Regions from separate parts of the Homo sapiens genome. Here region 1 is linked to region 2. Evidence: fine-mapped expression QTL. Tissue or cell type: whole blood. Region 2 holds a variant in brackets; the other region holds the start of a gene. All regions are shown on one strand. Distances are between the middles of the regions.

Region 1 (2,682 bases), 330 kb before region 2:
TTTTTAAGAAATACTTTTTTTTTTTTTTGAGACATTGTCTCGCTCTGTCGCCCAGGCTGGAGTGCAGTGGCACCATCACGACTCACTGCAACCTCCGCCTCCTGGGTTCAAGCGATTCTCCTGCCTCAGCTGGGACTACAGGCACGTGCCACCGCACCCGGGTACTTTTTGTATTTTAAGTAGAGACGGGGTTTCACCATGTTAGCCAGCTGGTCTCCAACTCCTGACCTCAGGTGATCTACCCGCCTCCGTCTCCCAAAGTGTTGGGATTACAGGCGTGAGCCACCACGTCCGGCCTAAGGTATACATTTTAATACTTTAAAATGCCTAACTTTTTTTGGGACACACTGGAGTTGTTTCATAACACACAAAATAGGCTTTTTGAGGGCACTGACATAAATTCTCATTGATCGTCACCCCCACGCGGTGAAAACCACACGTTACCTGGCATGTTTTCCGGTAGTTATTTTTAGAATAATAAAGATCGTCTTCACCTACCCCAGCAAATTTAATGTGCTGAACACAACAGAAACAACTTTTCTGTGGTTTAGCCAGCCCTCTCTCTTCAACTAAGTTATTTAGTGCGGATACGCAGAGAAGTGTAATAGGAGCTGCTGGGCCACCAAGAAAACGCTCTTGCCATTGTAAGGCTTCGATCTCAAGCGGAGATTTACCACGCATCTCACTTTAAACTGGGAAAGGAACCGGGATAAGGAAAAGAGCCCCCTGTGCGAGTTCGTTCCCAGCTCGGGGTTGGGGGCGTCCCAGGATAAATGAGATAAATGAGTTAATCATCTCCTGCAAGGCAGCCACTTCAGAGTTATGTCGCCCGCCTGCGGGGACTAACGACTGCAATTAAGACGCTCCTTCTCGGTCCCGGTCGGGTTCCGTGCAGCGGGGAGCCGACTGTGAGTCACCCCGGCCCCGGGAGCCCAAGCAAAGGGGAGGGGAGAGCGCCCAGGGTGGAGGGGAGCCGCGGGGCGAAATTCTAGCCCCAGGACGCCTCGGAAGGAAGAGGAGGGGCAGCTGCGCGTGGGGAAGAGAAGGAAGAGGCGTCCAGGGAAGGGAAGGGAGGAAGAAGGAAGGCGGAGGAAAGAGAAGGGGACGAGCGGGAGCGCGGGCCCGGCCGGGTGGCGCCTCGGGGAGTGTCTGCCGCGCGGGGGCCGGGCGGGGCGGGGCCGCGGGCGCTCAGAGCTCGGCGGGGGCTGCCGGGATTGGGGCGCCGCAGCTAGCGCTGGTCTCGGTGGCAGCTCCTCCGCGCCGCAGGACTCGGCTCTACGGGACATGTCCGTGCCGCGCTCGCCGCGCGCCCGGGCCTGCTAGCTCCTCTGTGCTCCCTGAACGCGCGGCGCCGCACCTGGCAGCGGCCTCGGAGCTCGGCTCGGGCAGGAGCGCGCGGCCGTGCGCACCGCGCAGCGACCGCTGCCGTCATGGGGCTGCAGCCCCTGGAGTTCAGCGACTGCTACCTCGACAGCCCGTGGTTCCGGGAGAGGATCCGCGCTCACGAAGCGGAACTCGAGAGGACCAACAAGTTCATCAAAGAGCTCATTAAGGACGGGAAGAACCTCATCGCTGCGACGAAAAGTAAGCGGGGACGCGGGCGCGGACGGGCTGCGGCGTGGCGAGGCGGCTGGGGGAGCCTCTCTCGGCAGGAGACGGAGGGTCTTGTGTCCGGGGCCAGCAGCCAGAGGAACGGGGAATTCATTCCGGACCAGCCCAGCTCTCTCGGAACCCCGGGGGGTCCCTGGAATCATTCCTCCTCGAGGCAGCGCGGCGAGTCCCCATTCCCGCCCCTGCGGCTCTGCGGCGGCGGGAACCAGCTGCCAGCGGGCCCCGCCTGGGCCCCGCCTGGCCCCGGCCGAACACCCCTCGCTGAATGCGCGCTCCGCTGGACCGACCCTAGGCACTCCTGGCCCGGAGTCAGGTTTCATTGCTGCCTAAAGCTACTCACAATCTCTTACAAAACCGAGGCATCTGTTTGCCTAGTTTTGTTTTGTGACTTCTCAAAAGAAATTTCTTGGGGATTCTTTGAAACCCTGCGGGAGTGTTGAGTTTTCCAGAGTCCCCTTAAGCTTCACCTTTTCCCTCTCATTGTCTGATCTTCCCCGACAGTCCTGTTCCAGGTCCTTCACGTGCCAAACCAGAAAGTCCACCTGGCTTTATGCTGCTTCCGCACATTCCTCCCCTGCCGTGCTGAGGAGGGTTCAAAGATTGGGGTTTGGAAGGGTGAGCGGACAGCCTGCCCTCTAGCCTAGGCGGGCACTGCTTGCAAATAGGGAATTCCACCCCGGTTAGGCTTGGTGCCTTCCTCCCCTGAACTTCTGTCTCTTAAACTCGGAAGAAGACACGAGATACAGGAGAGATAACTGTATTTTAGTGTAGTTGAGGAGAGTCTTTCTAGGAGAGAAGGGGCCAAAATTCATGCAGAAATACTGAGTTAGTGATGCTACTGGAAAATGGGGCGGAATTAGCCCCAGTGAGGAGCTGGGCAGCCTGACCATCCCTTGGATCCATAACCCCTTCGGAGGATGGCGGTGAATGTCCCCTTTCCCCCTTTAAAAGACCTGTCCATACAGCAGACAGGGACTTGGGCAGTATCCAGCCTTGAGGGGCTGGGTTCTTAGGGCCTTCATCACTCACCTAGATTCTCAGTTCAGTAATTCTCAGCCTTAGGTATTCGTC
Region 2 (2,682 bases):
TTACCTAGTAGAGGCTTCTGAGACACACCCAGGAAATCACATGCAGAAACTTAAGTCTACATGGGAAGTGTGGGAGGTAATCTTGGTGAACCGGTTAGTGCTAGATCACATAGCGCATGTGTTAAATAGCAACAGAAAGATCACAAAAAAACAAAAAAGGTGAATGTGGAGAACTTGACCCTGGACAAGGACTGCTGATTCTGTGTTCCTGTTTTGGGATGAGATGGAGAAAGCCAGGGTGCGGGACAGGCAGGCTTTTCTGTTGCGTATCTGTCATTACAGTGGTTCTTTCACTTTCTAAAAACTGAGGGGTATTTTCCCTAAACAAACACACCCACCCACCCGCGGGTGTTTTCATGGAGGTTTCCTTTTTTTTTTTTAAAGAAAGATGTGAGGATCAAGCAGACAATACCTATAAAATTTATGCTCTTTATTTTTCAAGGGCCACATAAGTGTAGTCACATAGTTACTTTATCTTCTTCCTGTAACTGTCCTCCCTCTAGGCAGAGGGATGGCAGTCATTGACGATTTATGACTCTGAAGAGCTGATGGGGGGTGTGGCAAAACATCTCATCTTCCTCCATTCACACCCTCCAAGCACCTTGAATAATTGCTGGGAGATAACTTGGCAATTGTTTGGCTAACTGTGGCCTTAATTTCCTGCCAGGGCTTCACTCACGCCTACCTGTCCTTTCCGTTCCTGATTAGTAAGACAACATTCAGCGTTCCTTTTCTGCTAAAAAAAAATGGAGTGACTTTTGTGACTGTTGATACAGATCACTTTAAGATTTATAACAAATCTTGCCTTGGGATAAAATAGATTTTATGACTCCCAGATGAATGGCTGGATAAGGGAATTGTAAATAAGCTCTTAGAAGAATAATGTTTTTTTTTTTTAAATGACCCCCTTTTTTTCCTGACCAAAGCATAGGAAAGCTTCTGTGTATTAAATACCTACCAAGTCAATTATGCACCAGATTTGTAAAATCCACTTTTGGTTTTAGAGCTTTCTAATTTGGTTGCTCCGATGTTGGCTGATGGCTCCATGTCCCCGCCAATCTGCCTGGCTTCGTGAGATCTGGAAAAAGAGTTAAAGATCTTCCTGTGGAGGCAAGAGAAATACTTGAAGGCATCAGAGAACAACCAGTATCAATGTGCCCTTTCATTTATTGGTGTCGCAGGCCTTCAGGGAAGGTGTATGGGTTAGAGAGGCCACAGGGGGAGTATTGGGGGAGGTGGAACTGGAGCTGAGCCAAGGA[A/C]GGGCAAGATTAGAGCAGGGCGGGGAGCTTGAGAGGAAAGGCAAAGCTTGAGGCGGAGGTGGGAACGCCAGGAAGCAGAGCTGTGGCAGACAGGGTAGGCTGCTGGGGCGGGACGGCCCCTGGTAGGTGAGCAGGTGCAGGAGCATTGTGTATAGGGAGACAAGTGGGTAAACTTGGCCCTAGGTTGCTGAGTGTCACCGTGTTGGAGGATTGCACCTAGGGGCTGGCCAGGAGACCATGCTGGTACTGAAGAACACGGTGCTAGTTCTCCGGCAGGGGAAACAATCTGAGAGCATGCTGAGGAGTGCAGAAGCCTCGGGAAACTGCTCGTGGAAACTGGTGTACTGGTTTAGCAGAAGACGGGGTATCTTAGGTGAAGAGCACCTGGGTGCTGCAGACAGGGAACACGTGTGTGTTCAAAATGTCACTGAATGAAACGAGACACTTCTCAAGGGAATGTCATAAACCATAGTCGCCTCCAGTTCTGAGGTCACTGAAGAGTAATTCAGATTAACACGCATCAATTATTTGAACTCTCCCTCTGTGCTTAGAGGCCATTCCAGGTGTCTGTTCACTGACCTGTTTACATTAACTTTAAAAAAAAAGGGAAATATTAAGAAATGCTCTGGTCACCAGAAGTTTTTGCTGTTCATTGGTTTCGAAGTCTTTGGCCCTCTCTAGAGGAAGCCTGAATCCAGTGGCATTTTCTTCTGAATTGCCACACGTGTAGGAGCAGGTGAAAGATCTTTAAATGTTTAGCTGATCTTTTGCAGCTGCCGGTCATGTGCTTGATGCTAGATTCCTGTGGTTTTCCTTATAATTAGAAAAAGTGAATACCTTGAATGTCCCACTACTCCTTTGATCAATTAGATTCTGGTTTTCTAATTAGTGAACTCATAGGGTGCTAGCAGGTTGGACAGATTGGAGAACCTGGAGAAGGACAGTAAGACAGCTTGAGTTTGGGGCTGTGGCTGGTTTCTGGGTTGTTGGTATCCGTAGTTTGGGCTGCAGCCCCGGCAGGATGCAGAGAGGACTCTGTCCCTACTGGTCAGGCATGATAGGGGAATTAGTGACCTAGTCATCTGGGATTGGGATGTTGTGCATTTCGTGTTCTGTGGCCTTTCTGCTATTAATCCTGTCCTTCAAACTCCTACCCTTAGCCCAGGCCAGACCCGATCGTCTATGGTCCAGTGGCTTAACCCACAGTCTCCAACCACAACAAGCTCCAACTCAGCTGTGACACCTCTTTCACCCGGGTCGTCCCCTTTCCCCTTTTCTCCTCCTGCTACTGTAGCGGACAAGCCACCTGAAAGGTACGTGGTTTGGAGTGGAATGTGGAATATGGTGGCAGCACACACAGGGGGCTTGATGAACCTGAGCAGGTTCTTGTGTTCTCTGCTGGCAAAAGCTTGCCCAGATACCC

The links. PIP is the estimated chance that this variant, and not a neighbour inherited with it, causes the effect.
Region 1: ARHGAP10 starts here. The variant in region 2 is fine-mapped to the expression of ARHGAP10 in whole blood (INTERVAL, PIP 0.96).

The regions. Positions count from the first base shown.
Region 1 is chr4:147,730,872-147,733,553 of GRCh38, forward strand. It overlaps ARHGAP10 (Rho GTPase activating protein 10), which reads left to right and starts at 1,217. Exons shown (of 23, transcript NM_024605.4): 1 at 1,217-1,584. The coding sequence starts at 1,431. RefSeq lists enhancers at 828-1,720, 1,721-2,613, 1,934-2,003 and silencers at 914-1,433, 1,744-1,823.
Region 2 is chr4:148,060,729-148,063,410 of GRCh38, forward strand. ARHGAP10 (Rho GTPase activating protein 10) reads left to right here. Exons shown (of 23, transcript NM_024605.4): 21 at 2,420-2,572. Among named protein-coding and RNA genes, the nearest start is that of MIR4799, 280 kb to the left of the region's middle. The variant A/C (reference allele first, on the strand shown) is at 1,260.